4 linked regions of the Homo sapiens genome follow. The protein of the gene in region 2 purifies or fractionates together with the protein of the main gene of each other region. This does not show direct contact. Each region holds a gene or a part of one and is shown on either strand. Other genes may lie near its edges. The genes, in order: GALNT12, PIANP, GALNT4 and GALNT2.

Region 1 (7,023 bases), on a different chromosome or scaffold from region 2:
CCAGCCTGACCAACATAGTGAAACCCCGTCTCTACTAAAAATACAAAAATTAGCAGAACGTGGTGGTGGGCACCTGTAGTCCCAGCTACTCCGGAGGCTGAGGCAGGAGAATCACTTGAACCTGGGAGGCGGAGGTTGCAGTGAGCCAAGATCGCGCCATTGCACTCCAGCCTGGGCAACAAGAGCAAAACTCCATCTCAAAAACAAACAAAACAAAACAAAAAAACAAAAAGAAACATCCCCCCTCCAACAAATACATGTTATAGCAAATGGAAAACATATGTGTGTGTATTATAAAAATATTAATAACTGCGTCTTCATTATTAAGCCCCTGAATACTAGACAAGATGCATAGAAAAGCTAGATTGTGTTGAGTTGTAGCTCACCAGGAGCCTCAGAAAGAATTAACCGCGAGGCTAGGCGCGGTAGCTCACACCTGTAATCCCAGCATTTTGAGAGGCCAAGGTGGGAGGATCGCTTGAGCCCAGGAGTTGGAGATCAGCCTGGGCAACATGGCAAAAACCTGTCTCTACCAAAAATACAAAAATTAGCTGGGCTGGGCACAGTGGCCCACGCCTGTAATCCCAGCACTTCGGGAGGCCGAGGCGGGTGAATCACGAGGTCAGGAGATCAAGACCATCCTGGCTAACAAGGTGAAACCCCGTCTCTACTAAAAAAATACAAAAAATTAGCCAGGCGTGGTGGCTGGTGCCTGTAGTCCCAGCTACTTGGGAGGCTGAGGCAGGAGAATGGCATGAACCCGGAAGGCAGAGCTTGCAGTGAGCCGAGATCAGGGGCCACTGCACTCCAGCCTGGGCAACAGAGCAAGACTGTGTCTCAAAAAAAAAAAAAAAAAAAAAAATTAGCTGGACATGGTGGCACACACCTGTAGTCCCAGCTACTCAGGAGGCTGAGGTGGAAGGATGGTTTGAGTCAGGGAGGCGGGGGTGGCAGTGAGCTGAGATGGCGCCATTGCACTCCAGCCTGGGTGACAGAGCCAGATCCTGACTCAAAAAAAAAAAAAAAAAGTTAATTGCTTACACTACATGAAAAACAAAAGTGTTTCTGTGAAACCTAAAATAAATATTTTTTCTTAAGATGCTGCTAAAACTTTGTTTCAAACATGCACAAGTTCAAGAGAAATAATTGACAATAAGGACGGTGAAGTGAGGTTTTCAAAGTGAGGTGCATTCAATGTAGAGAACAATCCTTTAGTCTGAAATCACATCCTTAGTATTTTGGATGAAAATTTATTTCTTCTCTTGTCAGCCCTGCTTTTTTTTTTTTTTTCTTTTTTTAATGTGTTTCCACTAAAACCAATAGCCTAGGGCCACCATTCTAGAATGTCTAGGTGGGCTCTTCATTTGTGCCATCTAAATCACAAGAAGGCTGGGTGCCAATTTTTCAATTAATATTCAGAGCTTTAAAATGTTCCTCTTTTCTTTGATCTCATATCAACATACATAAACATTTCTTGCCTAAGTAAATAGTCAGAATACCCTGAAGGAGGCTTGTTGTAAAAATTTTTCTTTGTAACATTATTTATAATAGCAAAAAGCTGCAAACAATTTCAATGTCGAACAAGAAGAAAATATAGTATAGTATGGCTGCATGAGGAAATCATGGCCATGTATTTTCAGCACGCCTTGTACTTTACCTGGTAATAACAGTACCCTTTGTTGAGTGTTTACTACATGAGAGGCACCACGTAAAACAACAAAATAACATTTTTTAGAGAATATTTAATGATAAAGGAGAATGGTCACACTATAATGTTAAATCAAAAAGGCAGGATAGAAATCTACAGATAGCCAATTCTAGAAACAACAACGTGTATGTGAGCGCGTTCACGCATAAACAATAAACAATAGAAAGAAATATGCCAAAATGTTATCAATGGTGATCTCTAAGAAGTGAGATTATTGCTGATTCTTACTTTTTATATTTTTGTGCATTCTAAAATTGTCCTAAAATGAACATCTATAATTTTTATAATCACAAAGAAATATTATTTTTAAAAGATTAGATCATATTTCTTTAGTTCCTCACAGCAAATGCCTTCATTGAGCAATAATTTAATACTCTGCCCTTTCTCTTTTTCTTGTCCTGGTATAGTTTCTGTTTCTTTTTTGAAAACATCTCCTAAAGGCATTCTGTTTTATGAGGTTCAATACCAATGCCCCTTGACTTACGGTGGGGTTACATCCCAATAAACTCATCGTAAGTTGAAAACATTCTAAGTAGAAAATGCATTTAATACACCTAACCTACTGAACACCACAGCCTAGCCTAGTCTATCTTAAATGTGCTCAGAACACTTCCATTAGTCTATAGTTGGGCAAAATCATCTAACACAAATCTACTGTATAATAAAGTATTGGATACCTCATATAATTTACCAAATATGTACCAAAAGTGAAAACCAGGTTGGTTGCAATGGGTACTATGATAGAGTTGAAAAATCTTAAGTCAAACGATCTTAAATCGGAGATCGTCTGTATATCTTTTTGAAATGTCTTTAAGTTTGCTTCCAGAAAAAAACACTTTCTCCTTTTCCTGACTAATAAAAAGCTGTGCATCTTTTGATCATACAAAGACAGCTATGGATCACTTTAAGGTTCCACTTTTGCCTTGAGGACAAAAGGAAGCTCAGAACTGGATTTAATGCTACATCACAGCACACAATCATTTCCCTAAGTTTCTGGTATATTGCATGTGCTTTGTAAGGGCAGAGACTGAGCTGTGTTTGTCTCTGTATTTTCAGCACGCCTTGTACTTTACCTGGTAGTAACAGTACCATTTGTTGAGTGCTTAATACAGGAGAGGCACCATATAAGCATTTTATACACATTACTTCATGTAGCCTTCCTAACAACCCTACTGGGTAGGGACTACAATAATCTCTGCTGGTAGAATATTTACTTATTATATGGATATGAATGAATTAATGGATACAGTAAATGCCTCTTGATCTTCCTTTTTTTTTTTTTCACCCAGGCTGGAGTGCAGTGGTGGGATCTTGGCTCACTGCCACCTCTGCCTCCCAGGTTCAGGCAATTCTCCTGCCTCAGCCTCCCAAGTAGCTGGGATTACAGGTGTCCGCCACCATGCCTGGCTAATTTTTGTATTTTTAGTAAAGACGTGGTTTCGCCATTTTGGACAGGGCTGGTCTCGAACTCCTGACCTCAAGTGATCCGCCCTCCTTGGCCTCCTAAAGTTCTGGGATTACAGGCATGACCCACTGCACCCAGCCCCTCCTGATCTTCTTTTATCTTTATATTAAGGTTATCACATAAATGTCTTTTAAAAAAAATCAAATCATATCCTCTGTAGAAAAGGCCAAGGAGATCGTGATGTACATTTTTGTGTCTTACCTGCCTAGAATCCTTTCTCCTTTCTTCACTGTACACTGCATCTTGATTTCCCTTTCAAGAGCCAACCTTTTCCAATTCTCAGTCTATGTGGTTTGTGGAGGGCTGAACATACACAAGCACATGCATATACACACAGAGACACACAGACACACACCCCTACCCCTGGGAAGGTTACATGCCTCAGGCCTGACCAATCAATAATTTCGTGATGACATCAATTGAGTCCCTGAATCCAGGGCCCAGAATAACCTGAACTCAGTTCTCATCCCAGACTTTTCTATAATAGAACCCAATATATTTTCTTTTATATTTAAGGCAGTTTGCATTGGGCTTTCAGTTACTTTTAACCAAAAGAATCCTGTCTAGTGTAGAAAATAATTATTTTTAAAAAGTGAATATAGGACTTCTACTTCTGGCAACATGGAAGACTAAGATGTCTAGGGAAACACTCCTGGTATATACACCCAAAAAATCTTGATAAAAAGTTTTTTTTTTTTAAATCTCTTGGCTGGGCGCTGTGGCTCACACCCGTAATCCCAGCACTTTGAGAGGCCAAGGTAGGTGGATCACCTAAGGTCAGGAGTTCAAGACCAGCCTGACCAACATGGTGAAACCCCGTTTCTACTAAAAATACAAAAATTAGCAGGGCATGGTGGCAGGCGCCTATAATCCCAGCTACTAGGGAGAAGCTGAGGCAGAAGAATCACTTGAACCCAGGAGGTGGAGGTTGCAGTGAGCTGAGATCGCACCATTGCACTCCAGCCTGGGCAACAAGAGCAAAACTCCATCTCAAAAAAAAAAAAATTTTTTAAATGGATGGCTTAGCCGACAGGAAAGTAAAAGAAGTCTTCTTCATGAAGGAACAACAAGAAAACACTAATCTAGATAACATAATTACCAGACATAGAGTATAAAATAAGTATGCTTAATATGCTTAAATAAAAGAAGACCTCAAATGAATGACAAAGAAACAAGAATGACAGAGAGATCTGGGTCACTGTAGGCATCTCATAGCAATGGTGCAAACCAGATGACAAGGGAATAATACCTTCAAATGTCAAACTACCAATGTAGAATTATATACCCAGCAAAACTTTCATGAACAAGAGCAAAATAAAAACATTTTCAGATAAAGAAAACTGAGGACTAACAATAGACCTCTCTACAGCAATTAATACATGATGTATTTCAGGAAGAAGGAGAAGAATCCCAGAAAGGTCTCTGACTCAGGAAAGAATAGTGAGCAGAGAAAATGGTAAACTTGTGGATAAATCTGAACAAATAAATACTGCATTTTTAGCTATTCTAATTTGTTGGTTTAAAAGCAAGACAGAATTAAAATATTGGAGCAAAATGGCATACAAATTAGGAGAGAAGATGATCAATACTAAAGCATTCTATGGTCCATAGTTAATATTTAATTTTAGACTTTGTTGAGTTAAATATGTACTTTAAAATTTACCACTAAGGTTAGAAATAGATAATATAACTACTAAATTAGTAGAGAGGAAAAAAATGGAATGAGGGGAAAAGCCTCTATCGACTCAAAAAGCAGTAGGAAAAAAGAGGGGGAAAACACCAAAAAAGCATAACAAATGAAAACATAAAATAAGACAGCACTATCAAATCCAAAAGCATCAGTAAGCACAATAAATGTAAGTGGATATAACTATCTTGTTAAAAGTTAATGATTGTCAGTTTGGATTTTTCTTTTTAAATGGAGTCTTGTTCTGTCGCCCAGGCTGGAGTACAGTGGTGCAATCTTGGCTCACTGCAACCTCCAGCCTCCTGGGTTCAAGTAATTCTCCTGCCTCAGCCTCCCAAGTAGCTGGGACTACAGACACCCACCACCACGCCCAGCTAATTTTTCTATTTTTAGTACAGACAGGTTTTCACCATGTTGGCCAGGCTAATCTCGAACTCCTGACCTCAAGTGATCCACCCACCTCGGCCTTCCAAAGTGTTGAGATTATAGGCGTGAGCCACCACTCCTGGCCTGGATTTTTTTTTAATGACAACACAAAATCGAGCAACATACTATTCAAAGACACACCAAAAACATATGGACACAGAATGAGTGAAAGAAAAAGGTATCAGGAAAATACTAACCGAAATTGAACATGTTCTGTGGATTTGAAGTACTGGAGTACTGACTCAAGAAAGAATGCCACTCTGATGTTCTCAAGATGGATCTAATAAGAATTCATAAAATATCCACAACTTTGTTGGGGAAACAAAATAAACATCAGTCTAATGTCCTACTCCCTTCTGCAACCCTAGCAAGACATACTTTTGCTTAATTACCTGTTTAGAACCACTTTGAGGCTGGGCATGGTGGCTCACGCCTATAATCCCAGCACTTTGGGAGGCCAACACGGGCAGATCTCCTGAGGTCAGGAGTCTGAGACCAGCCTGGCCAACATAGTGAAACCCCGTGTCTACTAAAAATACAAAAATTAGCTGGGTGTGGTGGCGCTTGCCTATAATCCCAGCTACTCGGGAGGCTGAGGCAGGAGAATGGCTTGAACCCAGGAGGTGGAGGTTGCAGTGAGCCAAGATCGCACCATTGTACTCCAGCCTGGGCAACATAGCAAGACTCCATCTCAAAAAAAAAAAAAAAAAGAACGACTTCGAGACTCTTTGCCATCCCAGCACCCAAATCCTGACCCCTGAACTCAGACACACATCTGCAATTATAGTATTAACAAGCCTAAAACCAGAGCAAGTCAAGAAATAAAAACACCATGCTTTCCTTGACCAATGGTTCACAGTTCTTCTGCCCTGGTAGAGAATGGCTGGTGTTCACACATATGGGATTCCTGTCATAGATAGACCTGAAGAAATGTCCAGCCCTGAGGGCACTGTCTGTTACTCCACTCTCTCTTCTACTAAATATCAGAATGCAAATGAGAATGATGTTACAGTGATCATCTCAAGTTCCCCGTATTCTATGGAAACTAAAACTTTTTGCAAATTTTGGTACAACATTACTAATAACCATTTCCTTGTGACACACCACTCAGTTGACTATGATGTCATCACTGGCTTGAACTACATTTGACCTGTTATTAATCCTTACTTTCTCTAGTTCTGGTATTCTCCACACCCTCCAAAACACTCACCCTAAATCTTCTGACTCAGAAATCCACAGGCTCTAGGCCAGTAGCTTTCACCCGTGGTTGCATATCAGATTCAGCCTAGGTCCTAGCCACAGATATTCTGATTTCATTGTTTTGGGGAAGATTCCTGGCATCAATATATTTTTTAAAGTTCCCCAGGGCCACACACCCAACTATCTGTCTCCCCACTTTGACCCGCTATCATCTCAGAGTAAAAATTCACCTTCTTTGCTGAGATGCTAGTCATACTATACTACTATGCTTACTGACTTACTTACTATACTTATTTATATTAATATATATTAATACTTACTATGTTACCATGCAAGGAAGGATTCCTAGTCATCATTAGCCTCCTCTTCAATTCAGTGCTGTAACTAACAAAACTATACTCGAATCCACTGGCATGTAAATTATTAGATTCATAGAGGGGCCCAGGTCTATACTGGCTCTCACAGAATTAGGACCAGTACTCTAAAATGTCTTTTTAGTGGTCTGGCCTTCTTCAAGAAGGCAGACACAGTGCCACA
Region 2 (6,863 bases):
GTGGCTGAGACACAGGCCTACTGTGGGCCTATGTGAGGGAGGGACAGGTTCACACCAGAAACCTCCAGGTTTCCCTGTGAAAGCAGGTGGGCCTTGGGAAGACTCGCCTCATTTCCCATCTTCCAAAGGAGGATGGCCCTCAGGATGGGAAGGCTCTGGATGGGTCTAGGAAGGAAGGAGTCATGGCCCCAGGGAATGTGGTCTCCAGGCTCCCTCTGCTGGGCCAAACTTACCACATCCTGGACTCCATGTCTGAGGTCTTCCTCAGCTGTGACCCAGATTTTCAGCCTTTACTGGGAGAAAAAGGGGGCCGTCACACCCCAGCCCTGCCCTGTGTACTTCCCCAGCTAATTCATCCACCAATTCTACCCGCATCTGCCCTCCCAGGCCACCCAGCTGCCAGCTATGCGGCTGCACCCAGGATTCACTGGTTGTTAGCATCCTTTTGGGGGAAAAACTCCAGCGTGGTTGCCTGACCAGACTCCAGCCCCATCTACAACTTCTCAGGTCCCTGTTACCTCTCCACCCCAGGGTCTACTCTGGCTTCTCTGATTTCCCTTCTTCTCACTTCCTCTGCCCACAGCTCCAGGCTTTTCTTGGATCTTAATTTAGAGCCAAGAACCTTGTGATTCCTTGAGCACCTACCGCTAGGGAGGGAGTCTGAGGGTAGGGGGAGGGATGGGGAAGTCAATCTGAGCAAGCCAGTGAGTGTGTGTACGTGCAGGGGGGCCCTTCCAGCCCTCCCAGCCCTCCCACCCCTCTGGCAGTGCCAGGCATTTGTCTTATGATTAGCCCCAGGAGTCTGCATCTTCAGGAGAAAGGAATGAAGAGCTGGAGGGATGGAAGGAAAGAGACAGAAAGAGAGAGGTGAGTGGGAGAAAAACTACAGAATATAATTTTTGCTCTTAATGTTTAATCATCCAAGTGCATAGGTGCCCTCTGAAGGGAGGTGGAGTCAGGAAGAAACCACCCCCTCAAATGTGGCTCTCCTGGGTAAAGAATCCTGGGAAAATCGGGATGGTTGGTTTTGAAAGAGAAAGGGTGTGTTCTCAGAGCTGAGGGTGGTGGATCCAGGAGGGGCAGGCTCCCCAGAGGGAGTGAAGATAGGATACCCGTTTCCTGTGGATTCTGGGTCTAAATCTGCCCAATGGGCCAGACGCAGTGGCTCACGCCTGTAATCCTAGCACTTTGGGAAGCCAAGGCGGGTGGATCACCTGAGATCAGGAGTTCGAGACTAGCTTGGCCAACATAGTGAAACCCCGTGTCTACTAAAAATACAAAAATTAGCCGGGGGTAGTGGTGGGCGCCTGCAATCCCAGCTATTCAGAGGGCTGAGGCAGAAGAATCCCTTGAACCTGGGAGGCGGAGGTTGCAGTGAGCTGAGATCACACCATTGCACTCCAGTCTGGGCAACAAGAGCGAGACTCCGACTCAAAAAATAAAATAAATAAATCTGCCCATTGAATCTTCCCAGAGAACAACAAGGGAACAAGATGGGAAAGTCACGGGAAGGGCGTGGGGAAGCAGGCAGTGGGAGAGATGGGAAGGGGTGAAGGGCTGGGAGATGGAAGGCTGGTTAAGAGTGAGAGAGGAGAAATGTGAAGAGGAAGCTGGCCTGGAGTGCAGGGTGAGAGAGAGCAGGCAGTCCTGAAAAAGAGAGAACTGGGAAGAGAGGAGGAGAGTGGGTACAGAAGACTCGAACTGTGGAGGATGCCGAAGGGAGGAAAGGATGAGAGAAAAGGTCAGGGAGGGGAAACGGAGAGGATGAAGGGGTCACAGGTGCAGGGGAAGAAGGGGCAGGAGGAGAAGGAGAGAGCGGTCCAGGCAGGACAGCCAGAGGAGTGGAGAGTAAGGGGATGGGAGAAAAGGGGGGAAAGCCCAGGATGGGGAGAAAGGAAGTGGGGAAGGAGAGAACATAAATGCTTAAGGAAAAATGACACGAGGAACGGGCTGGGAAGCAGAGGCGGGAGCAGCAAAGATGGAGGAGTTCGGAATTGCTCCCCCAAATGTAAAGGGATGTGGAGATACCGAAAGACATAGGGATGGGGGCATGGTGGGAAGAAGGGAGAGAGAGGGGAAAGGAAGAAAGCTAGAGGGAGGGAGCGAGGCGTGTAGAGCGAACCAGTGAAGCGGAGAAGGGCTCCCAGGGCGCATCTGTGGCCAGCTGACTCTAGGACTATCGCCCCTCCGCCTGTGCATCCCCACCCCCAGCCAGCGCCAACCCAGTCCCTGGGCCCCGCACAGCTTCAGCCGCCCCCTCCAGGAAGCCCGCAGTCCCCGGGCTGGCGCGCCACCCCCACCCCTCTCCCAGCTTCTCACCGACCTGTTGTGCGCAGGAGACGAGCTGGGGGTGGGGCAGGAGCCTCGGGGTGCGGGAGCCGGGCCCCAGCCCCAGCGTGGCCCCCATCCCACCCATCCCGCAGGCCCGCACTCCCCGCACAGGGCTGGAGAGCGGCGAGAGTGGGGGGAGACGAGGAAAAGGAGGTCGGCGAAGGGACCCCGAGGCAGGGAGTGCCGAGAGCGGACTGGGGACCCGAAGCAGGAGACTGCGCGGAGCCGCCCGCCGAGCCGAGGCGGGATGGAGGCAGCCGCGGGGACGGGGACGGCTGCGCCAGGGAGGGCGGGAGCGAGCCAGGACCGCGGAGGGATGGAGAGCCCTTCGGGGAAGGGGCGCTGGGAGGCTGGAGGCCTTGTCCCGGGCGAGGGACCGCGTCGGGAGGGGCAGGAGGCGCAGGGCGCGGAGCCGGGAAGGGCAGGGCCGGGCTCCCCGCGGGTGGGGGCGTGGGGGTCCCTCTCACTCACCTGCATGCTTGGCGCGGCGGCGCGACGACTGCGGGCGCTCGGGACTGAGCGGGGCTGGGGGGTCGCAGGAGCGGGCGGGGTGCGGGGCATGGTGGGGAGGTTTGGCCCGCGGCAGGGCGCTGGAGCGGGTGGGGGGCGGGCGCCTGGGGCGCGGGGCGGCGGCGGTGGGAGATGCTCGCCTCGGCTCGGCTCGGCTCGGCTCGGCTGGGCTCGGCGCGGCGGCTGGGACCGCTCCGTCTCCGTCTCCGCCTCCCCCCCGCGCCGGAGGCCACGCACGGTTTAACCCTCCTGCTGCCGCGCTGCAGGAGTCAAGCCAGGCTATGTCCCAGGTGGAGGGCTGAAGAGGCTGGCAGGGTCCAGCGACCGTCCGCTTCCCTGGGTTCTGATGGCAGTCTCCCCACCTCCTTCACCCCAACTCCAGGGACACCCATGGTCGCCTCAGTCAGTTTCTGAGATTCTGAGTCACTCAATGCTCTGCATTCCCAACTTTGTTCTTTTGTATTGTGTTTTGTAGAGATGAGGTCTCGCTGTGTTGCCCAGCCCGGTCTCGAACGCCTGGGCTCAAGCGATCCTTCCCGCTCAGCTTCCCGGAGTGCTGGGATTACAGGCGTGAGTCACCACTGCCTGTCCCCCAACTTGGTTTTGCCCGCTGTAGAAAGTGCCTGAGGTCAAGGCTGGGGGCAAGGGGTGGAGGAAAGGACTGGGGAGGAAGGACCTTGCACCATCTTTGGATTATCCCCACAGCTTGATCCCCTATTTCACTCTGGCCCTGCTACCATGCATTAAGTGGATCACGTCGAAATTCCTGGGCTTTTCCAGCACTGGAATACCTAGACTCCGTGCTGTGACTTACAAGACCCTATATAACCTGGCTCTTAGGTGGCTCTCTGATTGCCTTTCCTAAAGATTTCTATGCTTCAGCCACATGGGACCTGGTGGATTTCCTGGTTGGAGACAGGTTTAACCTGCCTCAGGGCCTTTGCACTTGCTGTTCCCTCAGTAATACATTTCCCTGGCTTTTCACAATGACTTACTGTTTTCATTCCAGTCTCACTTAGATCCAACGCCTTCTGGGAGGCCTTCCCTAATGTCTCTATCAAAAGTAGCCTCTCCTGCCCCTTCTCCCACCACCTGGATCCCATCCCTCTCTACCACACTACGCTGTTTTTCCTCAGGGCACTTCCAGGACACCACACTCTCCTCATTTCCCTCCAACCTCACTGACTGTTCTTAGTCTTCCTCGGGTGACCTCTAAATGTTGGAGCCTCCTAGGGCTTAGTCCTTGGCCATTCTCTCTTTCCACATTCTCTGTCCAGTGATCTCATCCGGTCCCAGGGCTTAAATACTATGTAAATGTCAGTGAGTCCTAAATTTATATCCAGAGCGCCAGACTCATTTATCCGACAGCCTACTTGACATCTCCACTTGGATGTCTAATAGCCATGCAAAGCTAACTTGACTAAAATAGATGTCTTGAATTCCCCCACCCCCAATCCATTTTTCTCCCAGTGATCCCCATCCTGAGGCTTCACAACTACTAGTTGTTCAGGCTAAAAATCTAGGAAACATCCCTCCCTTCCCCTTTTTTTCACTGATTCTCTCCCTGTATCTAATTCACCAACAAGTCCTGTGGGCTCTGCGTCCAAAATATATCCCGAATTCATCTCCTTCTATCTTTATTGCTATAGTCTTGGTCTAAGCCATCATGTCTCATCCAGATTATCATAATAGCTTCCTCACTGGTCCCTGCTTCTGCCCTTGTCTTTACAAACTAGTTTTTCCTATATTGATAATATTTTAAAAATCAAAAGCATGTCATGCTCTTCTCTGCTTAAAATATTCGAGTGGTTTTTCATTACACTTGGAATAAATCTGAACTCCTTGTAAGGAGAAGCCCACCAGCCTGTACCCACCTCATACACAGTGCTCCTGCTGGATCAGACTACTTGCTGTTCTGTAACATCAGAAGTCATTCTCTTAGCATCCCTGCACTTTTTTTTTTTCTCGAGACAGTGTGTCTCTCTGTTGCCCAGGCTGGAGTGCAATGGCACGATCTCAGTTTACTGCAACCTCCGCCTCCCAGGGTCAAGCAATTCTCCTGCCTCAGCTTCCCAAGTAGCTAGCGTGTGCATGCAGGGGGGCCCTTCCAGCCTTCCCAGCCCTCCCACCCCTCTGGCAGTGCCCACTAGTGCCCTGCTAATTTTTGTATTTTTTGTAGAGACAGGGTTTCACCATGTTGGCCAGGCTAGTCTTGAACTCCTGACCTCAAATGATCCACCAGCCTTGGCCTCACGAAGTTCTGAGATTACAGGCGTGAGCCACTGCGCCCGGCCCCTCCACTTTTGATTCCCTCTTCCTGGAATGTTTTGCCACCCCTCTCCCCATCTTCACCTGGTTGGCTCCTTCATCCCTGCTCAAAATCTAAAGTGGCCCCCACTCTGTTTCCTCATTATGTTTCATTGTCTTTCCAACTCATCACTTTCTATTTGTTTATTTATTTATTGAGATGGAGTTTTGCTCTCGCAGCCCAGGCTGGAGTGCGATGGTGCAATCTTGGCTCACCGCAACCTCTGCCTCCTGGGTTCAAGCGATTCTCCTGCCTCAGCCTCCCAAATAGCTGGGATTACAGGTGCACACCACCATGCCTGGCTAATTTTTGTAATTTTAGTGGAGACGGGGTTTCACCATGTTGGCCAGGCTGGTCTCGAACTCCTGACCTCAGGTGATCCTCCCACCTCGGCCTCCCAAAGTGCTGGGATTACAGGCGTGAGCCGCCACGCCTGGCCCGACTCATCACTTTCTGAAATGATCATATATGTGTTTACTATTTACTGTCTGCTCTCTCCTGCCCCCCTATACATTAGAGAGCCAAGATCTTATTTGTCTTGTTTACCGTGTATCCCTACTCCTACTGCAGTGCCTTGGAATGTAGTAGATGCTCAACATGTACCACTTAATGAACTTCTTCTGGGACCCCTGCCCACTCTGAACTCTTTTAATTCTCTCCTCTGCTGTCCTCCAGCCATTCCTCTCTAGCTGCCTGCCCCCTACTGATCTCTGCCCTACGCCAAATGCTTCAGGTTGAGCCCTTGCTCATGTCCACACCCCTTCAGATCCTCCTCCTTCATTTGCTGCATTGTGACCCGTTGTCAGCCTGGCGCTCCTGCCTCGTGAAAGGAAGGAAGCCTGCTGTTCTGACGAGCATCTGCAGCAGCTGCCCTCTTGCTTGCGTGTCCCTGACAGCCCTTCATTTGAGGTCAGAACAGCAGCGAGTGAGCCGTCCTCCTAGTGTCTCCCAGTGGTGGGGGAAAGACAAGGCACACTGGATGTGAACCCGGCCAAGGGGCCATGTGAGTCAGGTGCGCAACTCCTGCCACCTCCTGGGCCCCTTAAGCCCCAGAGCATCCTGAGGATATGCTCCAGGTGAACTCATGTCACTGGCATGGACCAAGTTTATCAAGTGAATATTCATGTTCAGTGTAAGTGCCTTTGACACTGAGGACCTTGGGTCATTAATTATTTCTATTATTCTTGATTCATTCATTCTTTCCACATTTTTTTTTTTTTTGAAACAGGGTCTCACTCTGTTGCCCAGGCTGGAGTGTAGTGGCACAATCATGGCTCACTGCAGCCTTGACCTCCTGGCTCAAGCAATCCTCCCACCTCAGCCCCCAAGTATCTGGGACTACATGTGTGTGCCACCATGCCAGGCTAATTTGTGGTGGTGGTTGTTTTTTTTTGTTTTTTGTTTTTGTTTTTTTTTTTTGGCAGAGATGAGATTTTGCCACGTTGTCCAGGCTGGTCATACAAATATGGTCATTTAAATGGTGTGACACGCCAGGTACCGTGCCATGGCTGGGGATACAGCGGAGAGCAAGAATGAAGTCATCACTGTCTTGGTGGAGCTTACAGTCTGGTAGGGAGACAGTGCAGTGATAAATGTGACTTCAGATGAATTTGAGGACCTACCCACACTCTACAGTCTCTATACAGTCTCTATACATCCTTGTCCTGTTTCTGGCTCTGCTGGTATCTTCATCACTATCTCTGGGCTCATTTTT
Region 3 (7,674 bases), about 83 Mb from region 2:
TTTCATTTTGTAAAACTTATTATTATAAACCTTGGCAAGAATGCAATGTTTTATACATTTACATAACACTTGCAATCACACAAAAGTCATGACAGTGATTAAGAGAGTGGATTCTGGGCCAGGTGAGGTGGCTCACACCTGTAATCCCAGCACTTTGGGAGGCCGAGACAGGCGGATCACGAGGTTAGGATATTGAGACCATCCTGGCTAACACGGTGAAAACCAGTCTCTATTAAAAAAAAAATACAAAAAAAATTAGCCGGGCTTGGTGGCGGGCGCCTGTAGTCCCAGCTGCTCGGGAGGCTGAGGCAGGGGAATGGCGTGAACCTGGGAGGCGGAGCAGCTTGCAGTGAGCCGAGATCGCGCCACTGCATTCCAGTCTGGGCGACAGAGTGAGACTCCGTCTCAAAAAAAAAAAAAAAAAAGAGAGAGTGGATTCTGGAGGCAGACTGCGAGTGTCTAAAAATCTCAACTCTGCCACTTCCTAGTTAGCAGTGTGCCTTGGGCAAGTAACTTAATGTCTTTGCATATCAATTTACTCATCTATAAAACGGAAATGGTAATAATAGCACATCTCTAATAAGATCGTTATGATCACTAAATGTCAAAATTTGTAAGGTACTTAGAAAAGTCCTGGCATGTAGTGAAAACATAGGTAGGTATATTAGTCCGTTCTCACATTGCTATGAAGAACTACCTGCGACTGGGTAATTTACAAAAAAAGCGGGTTTAATTGGCTCATGGTTCTGCAGGCTGTACAGGAAGTATGGCTGGGGAGGCCACAGGAAACTTACAAACATGGTGGAAGGCAAAGGGGAAGAGAGCATGGCTGCTCCATGGCTGGAGCAGGAGGAAGAGAGCAAAGGGGGAAGTGCTACACACTTTTAAACAACCAGATCTCGTGATAACTCACTCAGAACAGCAAGGGAGAAATCCACCCCCATGATCCAATCACCTCCCACCAGCCCCCTCCTCCAACACTGGGGATTACAATTCTACATGACAGTTGGGTGGGGACACAAATCCAAACCATATCAGTAGGTGACAAATTTTTTAAGATCAACTTTAGGTAATAGGATTAATATGTAGTTTCCCTCCCATCTTTTAAATTTAAAACATGTGTTTCTTGATAATTGAGAAAAAAAGTAAAAGCTAAACTTTTACTAAAACACTTAAATAAAAATCTATATTTTTTCTTCTTGTGAGCTAGTTTCTAAATCTCCAACTTCTTCCCTTTTCTGCTTCTCCTGTGCCCAATATTAGACGTAACATACCTATGAGTAATCCTGAGGTCCTGATTACTCTTCAGCTTCTGGCATTATTATTTTATTATTGGGGTGAAATACCTGTAATGAAATTTACCATTTTACCCATTTTTTAGGTGTACAATTCACTGGCATTAAGTACATTCACAATGTTGTGCAAACATCACCACTATCTATTTCCAGAACTTCATCATCCCAAACAGAAACTCTGCACCCATTAAACAGTAACTCCCCAGTCTCCCTTACCCCCAGCCCTAGTAACCTCTATTCTACTTTCTGTCCTTATGAATTCACCTATTCTAGGTACCTCATATGAATGGAATCATACAATATATGCTCATTTGTGTTTGGCTTATTCACTTAGCAAAATGTTTTCAAGGTTCATCCATGTTATAGCTTGTATCACAATTTCATTTCTTTTTATGGCAGGATAATATTTCCTTATATGTATATATCACATACATTTTGTTTATCCATTCATCTGTTGGATACTAGGATTGTATCCACTTTTTGGCTATTGTAAATAATGCTTGCTTTGAACACTGGCATCTGTTGGAGTCTCTGCTTTCAATACTTATGGGATATACCTAGCAGTGAAATTGCTGGATTATAAGGTAATTGTATGTTTAACTTTTTAGGAACTGACAAACTTTTTCACAGAGCTACATCATTTTACATTCCCACCAGTATCCAGCATTAGTTTTAAACATGGCAGGCTTTTAAAATAAATCAAGCCTAAACTGGTAATATGTAGCAAAACTAAGAGTCCTGCAACAGTTTGCTGACAAGTTGCTGATATCAACACTCTTAACATATCATCTCCTAGACTAATGCAGTGTTTCTCAACATAGACAGCTGAGACTCCCATAGTAATCATCTATGGAGCTTGTTACATCAGAAGGGCCCTGGATCCCACCTTGTATATGTTGATTCAGCATCTCTGGAAATGGAGCCCCCAAATCAACATTACAAATGCTAAAGCATGAGACTCACCAACCCTAGATTGCTGAGTTCTTGAAGGTAGGGGAAATATCTTAGTCATCATTGTGTCCCTCAAGGCCAAACATACAACAGATATTTAACAAGTGTATACTTAAATTAACTAATACTGTAATCTAAAGCCTACCTGTTTAGTTGTTAAGTACCATATTCAATAAAATTAAACTCAATCACTAGACAACTAGGGAATCTGTAATTAAGGTGTGTAGCATACCTTTCATTTGCATAAAACACATGTCTTACCAGCTGTGTTCTATCATGCCCTTTGATGTTGCTAAGGATCTTTACACTATATGTAATTTTCAGCTCAGAACATCACGCTTTGAGGCAGGGTTAAAAAAAAAAAAAGGATATGGACTTGGAATTAGAAGAACTGTCTCTGTGTGACCTCTAAGACCAATATCTAGGAATCAAGTTTATAACTTGGAAACATTGAAAACATTTTGTAATTCTACCAACTTCATTGTTTGGCTGAAGCACAAATGATACTATGTGTAACAAAGCCTGCTGTAGAAACGTGGTCTCACAAAAAACAAACAAAAAAAACCATGTTTCCAAGTCTTCCTAAAGACTTTAAGTATCCAGCTGTGTAAGTTTAGTGCTCTAAGGTATACGCAAATAAGCAGATGAGAATGGAAACATATCGCAGAAAATTATTAAGTGCATGCACAACATTTATTCATTCATTCACTCATTCATTCATCACGCACATCCAGCAACTATATCAATATCCTGCAGGGCACTGTGTGGAAAACAGTGGTTAAATAAATTCAAATCTGCCCTCAGGGGATTTAGTTCCTTTTAGTATATTAATAACTAGCAAGCTGCCCCTCTTCATGTCAAAGCTTTACGTCAACAAAATAAGCGGTAGGGGATCACCTTAAACGTCACGGGTGCTGTCTCTTTAAAACGTAATAGAACTCTGATCGCATCGATCACAGGCTCACAACGCCCTTCCATTCATCGCTCTTATTCCAGTCCTGGTTACTACCCCACTTCCTGACATCAAACCAGGGAGAACGCGAGTGTTAGTTAACATGGCTTGGTGTGTGGCCACAGCTGACCCGGCGCATACCTCCCGTCCTCTCTTTACAGGGCTGGCGGTGTCTCGGGGCTCGGCTGGCCATGCCTGGAGCGCGGGGTTTGACTGGGCCGCCGTTGTTGTAGTGACCGGGAGGCGCTGCCGCTCTGGGCAGACGGTTCCGGGAGCCGCACGGTCCCCTCTCCTTCCCCATCCTCTCCCCTCCCCTCTCCGGGTTCCCCCACCCACAGGAGCCTTGGGCCGACCACTCCCCCGATGGCCTCAGCCACGGTAAGGACGGGTTGGAGGTGGGGGGGGTCCCTCCCTGGAGCCTGTCCCGCGGGCTGCGGGGCCAGGTCCGGGCCGAAGCCGCACCTGGAGGGAGATGGAGGCAGGTGTCCGTAGCCGGGTCCTGAGCCCCTCGTCCCGGGGCGTCCGTATCTCACTCTCTGCCATCGGGGCGGACGGAGTGCGGAACCCAGACCCGGCTCCCGGACGCTCTTCCCCGAGTTCCGGAGCTCCGGACTGAGCTGGGCGGCCCCACGGCCCCCAGAATTCTCGGAGGGTTTCCGTGGAGCGCCTGCGTCAGAATCACCTAGGAAGTATTAAAAAAAAAAAAAGTACCAAAGCCGAGGCGCATCCTCGCACCTGCCTGCCTTGGGCCAGCGGGCGGGGCCCGGGAACGTGCATTTCAAAGGGGCCGCGGTTCCTGCGATGCGCTGGACTCTGGGAAGCGCGAACAGAGCGTTTTGCGGGCTCTGCGGGGAGAGCTGGCGCCGGCGTCTCCCTGTAGCAGGACTGGGCGCCGCGCCCGTGGGTGGGCTGCTGCCCGGCCCCGCCGCCCAGCCAAGCCGCCGCCTGGGTGGCCATTCCCAAGCCGGACTCCGGGGAAGTGGCAGCGTGGATCCCAGCCGCCAGAATTCGAGGTCTGCGGCGGCTTTCAAAACTTGACAACTTTCCTTTCCAGGAGGACCCCGTTCTGGAGCGTTATTTCAAAGGCCACAAAGCTGCGATCACCTCCTTGGACCTCAGCCCCAACGGCAAGCAACTTGGTAAGTCTTATTCTTGTTTTGCTTTTGTAATGAGACTAAACTCCATGGGCCGGAAACCTTTCCTCCTGTCCGGGCAGGGTCCCTAGGAGAACGGCTAAGGGCCTGTATGAGGGTTGAGAGCACCCGGAGACGAGGGCCCAGCGCGGCGGGGCGCAGCTAGGGCCCCCTCTGCCATCCCGGCCCCCAGCCCCCGGCCCGGCCAAGAGCCTCCTATCCAGCGGTCTGGGCCTGGCGGACGACTTTCGCAAACTAACCACCAGGAGGAGTGAGTGGGAAGGGGAGGGGTTTCTCCTCGGCCCGGGGAGGGTGGGGTGTTGGCTGGAGAGTTTGTGAAAAGTTGTGAGCCGAGCAGGAGGAAGTAGGGAGAGAGGAGTTGGGCTGTGCCGGAGGCCGAGGACCGAGAGGGCTCAGGTGACCCCTGGAAAGCCTGGGTGGCTGGAAAGGAGCCTAGCGCCTGCATGAAAGGAAGAACCTGCTGGGAAGTACCTGAGCTCGAGCTGTGGGTTCCGCCGCCCTTCCCCTGCGTGGTGGCTTGGTGGCCGCGTCTGCGCCTCAGCCCTGAGAATCCGGATGGCGGTGAGGTGGACTTGGGCAGGCAAGAGCTGCCTGCTGCTGGCGTTTTTAACAGTGGCCTATATCTTCGTGGAGCTCTTGGTCTCTACTTTTCATGCCTCCGCAGGAGCCGGCCGTGCCAGGGAGCTGGGGTCAAGAAGGCTCTCAGACCTCCAGAAAAATACGGAGGATTTGTCTCGACCGCTTTATAAGAAGCCCCCTGCAGATTCCCGTGCACTTGGGGAGTGGGGGAAAGCCAGCAAACTCCAGCTCAACGAGGATGAACTGAAGCAGCAAGAAGAACTCATTGAGAGATACGCCATCAATATTTACCTCAGTGACAGGATTTCCCTGCATCGACACATAGAGGATAAAAGAATGTATGAGTGTAAGTCCCAGAAGTTCAACTATAGGACACTTCCTACCACCTCTGTTATCATTGCTTTCTATAACGAAGCCTGGTCGACTTTGCTCCGTACCATTCACAGTGTTTTAGAAACTTCTCCTGCAGTTCTTTTGAAAGAGATCATCTTGGTGGATGACTTGAGTGACAGAGTTTATTTGAAGACACAACTTGAAACTTACATCAGCAATCTTGATAGAGTACGCTTGATTAGGACCAATAAGCGAGAGGGGCTGGTTAGGGCCCGTCTGATTGGGGCCACTTTCGCCACTGGGGACGTCCTCACTTTCCTGGATTGTCACTGTGAGTGTAATTCCGGTTGGCTGGAACCGCTTTTGGAAAGGATTGGGAGAGATGAAACAGCAGTTGTGTGTCCTGTTATAGACACAATTGATTGGAATACTTTTGAATTCTATATGCAGATAGGGGAGCCCATGATTGGTGGGTTTGACTGGCGTTTAACATTTCAGTGGCATTCTGTCCCCAAACAGGAAAGGGACAGGCGGATATCAAGAATTGACCCCATCAGATCACCTACCATGGCTGGAGGACTGTTTGCTGTCAGCAAGAAATATTTTCAGTACCTTGGAACGTATGACACAGGAATGGAAGTGTGGGGAGGTGAAAACCTTGAGCTGTCTTTTAGGGTGTGGCAGTGTGGTGGCAAATTGGAGATCCACCCGTGTTCCCACGTGGGCCATGTGTTCCCCAAGCGGGCACCATATGCTCGCCCCAATTTCCTACAGAATACTGCTCGGGCAGCAGAAGTTTGGATGGATGAATACAAAGAGCACTTCTACAATAGAAACCCTCCAGCAAGAAAAGAAGCTTATGGTGATATTTCTGAAAGAAAATTACTACGAGAGCGGTTGAGATGCAAGAGCTTTGACTGGTATTTGAAAAACGTTTTTCCTAATTTACATGTTCCAGAGGATAGACCAGGCTGGCATGGGGCTATTCGCAGTAGAGGGATCTCGTCTGAATGTTTAGATTATAATTCTCCTGACAACAACCCCACAGGTGCTAACCTTTCACTGTTTGGATGCCATGGTCAAGGAGGCAATCAATTCTTTGAATATACTTCAAACAAAGAAATAAGGTTTAATTCTGTGACAGAGTTATGTGCAGAGGTACCTGAGCAAAAAAATTATGTGGGAATGCAAAATTGTCCCAAAGATGGGTTCCCTGTACCAGCAAACATTATTTGGCATTTTAAAGAAGATGGAACTATTTTTCACCCACACTCAGGACTGTGTCTTAGTGCTTATCGGACACCGGAGGGCCGACCTGATGTACAAATGAGAACTTGTGATGCTCTAGATAAAAATCAAATTTGGAGTTTTGAGAAATAGAGCACAACAGCACTTTCGTCATGAGCTGACAGTAGTGTCAAGAAAGTCAAAGAGCCTTAAGAGCCTCAGTGAAGATTGTATTTTATTTTATCAAAAGCCACCTAGCAGTCATCTGTGGAGCACTGGAAAGCTGGGGTTCATTTTGGTATATCACACTGAAACTGGGTACCCAGAGTGCTGCTGTTTAATATTTCACAATGCCTTACTTATTGGTTGTTTTATATAAGAGTTTTGTCAATATGGTCTCTTCTTAAAAGAAGTTGACTATGAATTGAAACACACAAAACATTTAAGTGCCAGACTTAATATTAAAGAATGTAAAGGTCCAAGTAAAATGAGGTATGATTTATGTTGATGTGTAAGTTCACCGCACATCCCACTTTTTAACAAAACTCATGAATGTGCAGTTTGAGCCATTGCTATTTTGATTACATAGAATTTGTATTTCTTTTTTAGCCAGCACATTAAATTTTAGATTTTATTTTTTAATCTAATTTTTTTCTAATCAAAAAGAAAATTGAGCTTAAGGCAAAAGGCCTGGTTTTAGAGATATGTGTAATTGGAAGAGGGCATTTGTTTGAGTGTGAGTTTGGAGGCCTTTTTAACATGCAGACATACCCATATTTAAATGAAATGGGGAGATATTTACATTCCGTACTTTGTAAACTTGAGCTATTGGACTTCACTGATGTATATATTAATACCTCAGATTCCTCTGATTTTGTAAGCTGTCTTCTCTGTGAACGTGTTTGTGTGTGTAGGGCATTTTCTGATTGCACTTCCTTAAGTTATGAATGTACTAGAAAGGGACTCATCCAGAATACTATGCCTCCCTTTGTTAATGCTTAATCATTTAAAGTAAACACAATTGAAGCCTCTCTGAAGTTAAACCCAACTATGTTTATTAAAATGTGTGAAACTGAAAGTGGGCTAGGTTCTACCAAGGCTGTGGAACTCTCCTACGAGTTCTGCTGATCAGGAAATTTAAGAATTTATCTTAAAAATGCAAGGAAAAAAGACTGCCTTGGCA
Region 4 (7,023 bases), on a different chromosome or scaffold from region 2:
TCAGGATATGGAATATTTATATGTACTACCTAATGAGATATCTTGGGGCTGGGACCTAAGTCAAAGTACAAAATTTGTTTGTTTTATATAGACCTTATACACATAGCCTGAAGTTAATTTAATACAATACTTTTCATAATTTTCTGCATGAAACAAAGTTTGTGTACATTAAACCATCAGAAAGCAAAGGCGTCACTGTGACCGCCCACTGGATTCACCTTGCCCGCTGCCCAGATGGAGCTGACTTACCAAGATGGGAATTGCAATAGAGAAAGAGTTTAGTTCACACAGAGCTGGCTAAGTGGGAGACTGGAATTTTATTACTTAAGTCAATCTCCCCCAAAATTCAGAGGCTAGGGTTTTTCAAGGATAATCTGGAGGGAGCTGGGGACTAGGGAGTGGGTGCTGCTGATTGGATGAGGTGCAATCATAGGGGTGTGGAAAATGGTCCTTGTGCCTGCCGAGTCTGCTTCTGCATGGATGGGTCCACAGGACAAGCTGGAGATCTGGATGGAGTCATCAGAAGTGCAGAAGCCTGAAAAGACATTACAAAAGGCCAATCTTACGTTCTGCAATGGTGATGTTATCTGCAGGAGTAATTGGGGAAGTTGCAAATCTGTGGCTGATTTGTTAGTCCAACAAAGGCAGTCTGGTACCCAGACAAAAAGAGGGTTTGTTTGGGGAAAGGGCTGTTACCATCTTTGTTTTAAAGTTAAACTATAAACTAAGTTTCTCCCAAAGTTAGTTCTGCCTATGCCCAGGAGTGAACAAGGGCAGTTTAGACGTTAGAAGTTAGATGGAGTCAGTCAGGTCAGATGCCTTAAACTGTCAATTTTGTCATTGTTAAATTTTTTGCAAAGGCAGTTTCGTCACTATCTCATGTTGGTGCTCAAAAAGTTTTGGATGTTAGGACATTTTGGATTAGGGATGCCCAACTTGTAATAGATGACATTTAATATTTATTTAATACTTATTTAATACTACCTAAATACTTGCAAATACCTGCAAAAACAAGGAGGGCCTGGACAAAAGTGAGTCTCCCTCGGTGCCACTGTATCTGCAGCACTGAGACTGTTTGGTGTAGATACCAAATAAATACCTGAGTGAACCAATAAATAAATGAATAAAAGGAGCTAGCACTGAGTAGCACATGGAGATCATTCCTTGGGGCTGCCTAGTTATCCTTTTCTATTACAAAGACAGAAAAGAGTTGCTTTGCGTTTAGGAATTTTTAAGTGATTTAGTCACTTAAAAACTTGAGTGATTTGAAAACAGTATGACTGGAGTTGATAAAACCTTTAAATCATTAAGGCTGAAAGGAACCTAGGACATTCTGGAATCAAATCCTTTCATGTCCCTGTTGGGGAAATCCAGGTGCCAGATGTTACAAGTATTTAAGTTAATAACTGGTTAAAAACTGACTAGGCATAGGTTAAGGCATAGGTCACTTAGCAAAACCCCACTAACAATGTTTAGTGGCTCTTCTGAGAAATGATATGTATGATCCAGTATCCCCCAGCACTTTAAGTACTCATTGTTGTATCTGTATATTTTTTAATAGAGAGAAAGTAAAAATTCATCAGTCTCATCACCAAACCAGTTGTGCCATAACACTCTCATAATTTGATGAATTCGTCTGTCAGTATCTATTTCTGTCTCTCTCTCTTGTTTGCTCACTGGCTCTCCTTCTGCCTCTACACACATATCCACTATATGCAATTCTGCAAACTATTTTATTTTCCCACAAGTCCAGGACATCATTTCTGTCAACATGTAAGATGCACACTCATGTTTTTAGTGGTCACAGAATATTTCATTTGATTCCTTCCTCATATTTAGTCATAAAGTTTCTCTTTTTTTTTTTTTTTTTTGCTATTATAAACAAAGCAGAAGTGAGCATATTTTCACATGTATATTTCATTCCTAATTGATTGCTGCCTTGAGATAAATTTCTAGAAGTAGAGCTGCTGGGTCAGAGAATAGGTGCATTCATATGTTCTTATCTGTGTTGAATGGCATTATGGATAATAGTCCATATTCTACTTACTAAAATGAAAAAGTATATATATCACCTTATATGAAAGATATAGGCCCCATACAGAAATTATTTTAATAATGGTATCTCAGATCAGTTGAAAGTTTCGCCATTTTAAGGAATTATTTTAAAAGGCGAGCATTACCTCCTTACTGTATTTATTTTGGAAGAACACAGTGCCTTCCTATGGGGTTCTTAAGGAGGGCTAGCTATAGCCTGAAGTGGGAGTCCACCTTATAGCCGAGACCAGAATATGGGAGCAAAGAGGTTAGCTGTGTGCTTGCTACTTCATGGATGCTTTAAGATAATTCTTGGCAGAATACACTGCTGATACCTATGCAGATGATAGCTTTTAATGCATGTCAGACATTCAAGAGTAGCTTGTCCCAGGGGCTTTATTTATGGCAAATCATGGTTCTCTCTATGAGATTTAAGTACATGGTTTTCTTTCCTTCTAGAAAAGCCGGCTGGGCGCGGTGGCTCACGCCTGTAATCCCAGCACTTTGGGAAGCTGAGGCGAGTGGATCACAAGGTCAAGAGATCGAGACCATCCTGGCTAATGTGGTGAAACCGTCTCTACTAAAATTACACAAAAATTTTAGCTGGGTGTGGTGGTACATGCCTATAGTCCCAGCTGCTCAGGAAGCTCAGGCAGGAGAATCGCTTGAACCCGGGAGGCGGAGGTTTCAGTGAGCCGAGATCTCGCCACTGCACTCCAGCTTGGCAGCAGAGCGAGACTCCATCAAAAAAAAAAAAAGCTAGTGCAAACATGGCAGTCTTTCAGCTTAGCCCCGCAGAAAAGAAAGTGATTTTCCCAGGAACTCTTATCTTATGTAGTCTGAACTTTAATGCAGAGCTGTCTGATAGTGTCGTAGCCGTGACGGAGAAGGCCGTGGGGCCTGGAATCTCCTTGCTGTGCTCTGTGGCCCCGGCCCTCTGTGGACGCGTAATGTGAGAGTTTTTAAAGAGTAACTTTCTTTTGTCCTTCTTTAAGATATAGACCCCAGTCCCTCCTTTAAAATATTGGCTCGTGCTGTAATTTCCACTTTGCCTTTTGCCCTTTGACCATCTGTGTGACAAGAAAGCCATTCCAATGGTTCAGTAAGCACCCGCTGAGGCTGGCTCCCCACAGGTCCAGCTCGAGGTGCTGGTGGGGACAGCCCACCCTCTGCTGTGTGCCGTGATCCCAGCTGGAGCTGCTGCACACCCAGAGGGAGCCGCCTCAGTCACACGCCAGCAGACAGGTGCAAATGGAGTGATGCAGACAGAAAGAAAGGAAATCACACCTCAAGATTTATTTTCTTTCTAGAAACACCCGCCGGGCAGCAGAGGTCTGGATGGATGAATACAAAAATTTCTATTATGCAGCAGTGCCTTCTGCTAGAAACGTTCCTTATGGAAAGTAAGTGGCAGTTCTGCCTTCTCACAATTACTGGGGATTCTTGGGGTGTGGGGGTGGGAGGTAAGGGGCTGCCCCCAGCGTTGAATTCAGCTACCCAGGTGCCAAGGCGGGAAGGGGTTGTGGGCACAGGAGCATGGGCAGTCCACACCACACCACCTGCCCCAACCCTGTTCTCCTCAGCAGATTTTCAAGTTTGATGTAGAAAGCCCATCTATTCTTAAAATTTATAAAGGAATCTTATTTCCCTCTTCTCCAGTATTCAGAGCAGATTGGAGCTTAGGAAGAAACTCAGCTGCAAGCCTTTCAAATGGTACCTTGAAAATGTCTATCCAGAGTTAAGGTAAGTCCCCAGGGATCTGGGGTTTCACTTTGTAAGGGCTTAGAAGCCAGTAAGGCCATAGAAGCAGCAGAGGGGAAATGGAGGTGGGGCTGCAGGCATGAGATTGGGCACCTGGGCCCCAGTGAGAGCCTGTGGTCTCACTCCATGGTGTGGAGCTGAGAATCTGCTCCCAAGTTGGCCTGCTGCTGTCTCTGTCCTGCAGAGCTGCCCTCCCATGCTTCGGAGTCCCAGAGGCAGTCCCCCGGGCCTCACCTTGTTTTTGGCTTGTTCTCCATTGGCAAGGTGATGGGCTGGGTGACCTGAAGGACTGGTGTCTGACAGGCTCTTCGAGTGACCAGGAGCAGTCCCCAGCCTCCGCAAGCATGCAGTGTCTGCAGCCAGCCCTCGATCCCCCCGCCAGGCGCCTTTGCATGCCTCCGATCTGCTGCGCTCACCCTTGCTGCTCCTGTGGGCCAGCAGATAACAGCCCCCACGAGGCTCCCTCCTCCCAGCTAGGTTAATCACATGTGAAACGGAAGTAATAATGCTGCTGCCCCACGTCCCTCCGGAGGATTCATGGCAGAAACACCTTTCTGAGCATTATTTCCACACCCAGCCTCTTGTTTTAAGCGAATACGAGCTCCCCATCTGGAGGGACCTGCTGATAACCTCGTGAGAAGACCTATAGATCCGCTGGGGTGGAGGAGCCATCTGCACTTCATCTTCTTAAAGGGACTGTCAGGCAGGTCGTGCCTTAATGCGGCACATTCCTTATTCTAAATATTCCCAGAGCATTTTACAGCGGCTCACATATCTCCAGCACAGTGCCTGCGAACGCAAGACTTGCCACCATTATCTTTCCGCTAACAGCTCCTTCAGAGCCCTTGTCACGGAGATTTGTTGGACAGTTAGGTAATGCGGCCTCTCTCTGTTGCTCCTGTTCGCTCACTTGGCTCTTTGGAACCGTTTCCTCTGCTTTTCAAGTAACATGCCAGGCGCCAGGTGGCCCATGCCCCCTAGGAGGAGAACAGGAGAGAACACAGCGTCCTTCTCCCTCGGATCCCTGCCGTGCAGGACAGCTTTTGCTGGGGATTGAGAGCACCAGATGGTCACCAGCGATGGTCACCTGCAGCGGCAAGGGTGCACTGGTCACAGTTGCTGGTTGCAGGGCCCTGGTCTTCTTCCTGCCAGCTCTGTCCTCTCGGCCATGTGCACTCAACCCAAAAGAACCCATTCTGCCTCTGTGTCTGGCCCCAGAATATGATGTCTACACCTCCTGCCTGGTGTCCCTATACAACAGATTCTTGACTGTGGGCACTAAGGCGGCTGCTCATCAACTCTCCGTCAGCCAAAGAGGGGCTTCAATTCAGTGGATTTTAACCCAACCATGCCACTCACTTTGCTTTTTCAGTCACAGTTGACTGCCATTTCTCACAGAGGTCACCCATGGTTTGTAGTGACACTGGGCCCCGCACCCACTGAAGACCACATCTGAGGCACTGAGCACCATCCTGGCTGGCAAATCTGCTTCCCCTGTCTGTGGGGGGTGAGGGAGACATCAGCCTCGTGTTTTGTGTCTGTAATATCACCGCCGTTTACTGAGTGCCTCCTACGAGCCAGGCACTGGGCCGTGTGCTTTACACGAAATGTTCTATGTAACACTTGCAGCAGATCTGGGTAGCCCATAGCCTACCAAAGGGCAAATCGAGCTTCAGAGAAAGTGAGTCTTGCCTGAAAGCCAGCACCTGGCAGAGGTGGGCTGAGGTTTGGATCTGGTTCTGAAGCACGTTGTTCTTCCCCGTGGCTGTGGCTTTGTTCACATTAGACCACCTGACAAGTCTGCCCACCTTTCCCGTCTTTACTGGATAAAGGTCAGATCCTAAGTGTATTGGAAAGTTCAAGGCAACAGGATCTGACCACATTGATTTTCTAAATGACTTCCAATAAGACTAACATTGAAGAGTATCAGGAGCTTTTCCTTCCTTTCCAAAAAAAAAAAAAAAAAAAAATGACCTGATATAGAATATAAAGAATACTTCTGCAACATACAGTCTTAAAGTGTTGGAAGTCCAGAGCCTGGGAGAAATGCCGTGTCCCTGACACACACTACCTGTGGTAGGAAGAGGCACGATGCCTAGTCACTGGGTCTTTCTCTCGTTCCTGTCACCTGTCATGAGGCCACTGAGCAAAGGGGCTGGTGGACGGGAGCTGGTGGTCATGTGCAGTGAAGCAGGTGATTCTCACGTTGTTTTTCAGGGTTCCAGACCATCAGGATATAGCTTTTGGGGCCTTGCAGCAGGGAACTAACTGCCTCGACACTTTGGGACACTTTGCTGATGGTGTGGTTGGAGTTTATGAATGTCACAATGCTGGGGGAAACCAGGTATGTGCATGGGGAAGCCAGGTCACCTGCAGGCCCAGAGAGAGCAGGAGTTGGGGGGGTCCTGATGTTAGAAGTCCCAGCTGCCACCTTTCTCCTGGGATGGGTGATGTCTATGAGGAAGCACCTGGCTCCTGCTGGCCACAGCCTCTTTGGCAGCCAGCACCAGGGCCAGATAGAATGTCACACACTTTGGTGCATCAGCTCTGTCATCAGCTTCGGACCAGGCTCTGCTGCAGCGGCAAGGGTGCACTGGTCACAGTTGCTGGTTGCAGGGCCCTGGTCTTCCTGCCAGCTCTGTCCTCTCGGCCATGTGCACTCAACCGCAAAGCACCCATTCTGCCTCTGCGTCTGGCCCCAGAATATGATGTCTACACCTCCTGCCTGGTATGCCTATACAACAGATTCTTAACTGTGGGCACTAAGGCGGCTGCTAGTTATAGCCCCTGCCTGTTAGATAATAGCTTAAGATAGAAGATACTCAGTATTAATTGCTTCCATTGCACACATACACACCTTTTCTGAGAGGCATAAAAATGCACAACCGCCAGGCGCCGTGGCGCACGCCTGTAATCCCAACACTTTGGGAGGCTGTGGTGGGTGGATCACCTAAGGTCAGGAGTTCAAGACCAGCCTGGCCGACATGGTGAAACCCATCTCTGCTAAAAATAAAAAAAAAATTAGCCAAGCGTGGTGGCGGGCACCTGTAATCCCAGCTACCCGAGAGGCTGAGGCAGGAGAATTGCCTGAACCCGGGAGGCAGAGGTTGCTGTGAGCTGAGATCACACCATTGCATTCCAGCCCAGGCTACAAGAGCAAAGCTCTGTCTCAAAAAACAAACAAACAAACAAACAGAAAAACCCACTACCTTCTCTTCTCCCATCATT

Evidence for each region.
Region 1: the proteins of PIANP (region 2) and GALNT12 purify together in Homo sapiens (affinity purification with mass spectrometry; 2 studies listed by BioGRID and IntAct, with this or other methods). This does not show direct contact.
Region 3: the proteins of PIANP (region 2) and GALNT4 purify together in Homo sapiens (affinity purification with mass spectrometry, with the first as the bait; 2 studies listed by BioGRID). This does not show direct contact.
Region 4: the proteins of PIANP (region 2) and GALNT2 purify together in Homo sapiens (affinity purification with mass spectrometry; 2 studies listed by BioGRID and IntAct, with this or other methods). This does not show direct contact.

Annotation. Positions count from the first base shown.
Region 1 is NC_000009.12:98,810,657-98,817,679, reverse strand, and holds part of GALNT12 (polypeptide N-acetylgalactosaminyltransferase 12), read right to left. Parts: intron 6,855-7,023; exon of another isoform or gene 6,843-6,854; coding exon of another isoform or gene 6,807-6,842; intron 5,567-6,806; coding exon of another isoform or gene 5,484-5,566; intron 1-5,483. UniProt on the Homo sapiens protein: Catalyzes the initial reaction in O-linked oligosaccharide biosynthesis, the transfer of an N-acetyl-D-galactosamine residue to a serine or threonine residue on the protein receptor.
Region 2 is NC_000012.12:6,697,812-6,704,674, forward strand, and holds the start of PIANP (PILR alpha-associated neural protein isoform b precursor), read right to left. Parts: upstream 3,005-6,863; 5' UTR 2,803-3,004; intron 2,605-2,802; exon of another isoform or gene 2,324-2,604; intron 294-2,323; 5' UTR 251-293; coding exon 234-250; intron 1-233. UniProt on the Homo sapiens protein: Acts as a ligand for PILRA in neural tissues, where it may be involved in immune regulation.
Region 3 is NC_000012.12:89,521,783-89,529,456, reverse strand, and holds the start of GALNT4 (polypeptide N-acetylgalactosaminyltransferase 4), read left to right. Parts: upstream 1-4,660; 5' UTR 4,661-4,907; coding exon 4,908-6,644; 3' UTR 6,645-7,674. Other genes in the region: POC1B-GALNT4 protein, read left to right, coding at 3,562-3,576, 4,253-4,337, 5,017-6,644; POC1B (POC1 centriolar protein homolog B), read left to right, coding at 3,562-3,576, 4,253-4,337; POC1B-DUSP6 readthrough, read left to right, coding at 3,562-3,576, 4,253-4,337. UniProt on the Homo sapiens protein: Catalyzes the initial reaction in O-linked oligosaccharide biosynthesis, the transfer of an N-acetyl-D-galactosamine residue to a serine or threonine residue on the protein receptor.
Region 4 is NC_000001.11:230,259,229-230,266,251, forward strand, and holds part of GALNT2 (polypeptide N-acetylgalactosaminyltransferase 2 precursor), read left to right. Parts: intron 1-249; exon of another isoform or gene 250-353; coding exon of another isoform or gene 354-535; intron 536-3,344; coding exon 3,345-3,437; intron 3,438-3,693; coding exon 3,694-3,777; intron 3,778-6,012; coding exon 6,013-6,139; intron 6,140-7,023. Other genes in the region: uncharacterized protein LOC124904542, read right to left, coding at 354-535. UniProt on the Homo sapiens protein: Catalyzes the initial reaction in O-linked oligosaccharide biosynthesis, the transfer of an N-acetyl-D-galactosamine residue to a serine or threonine residue on the protein receptor.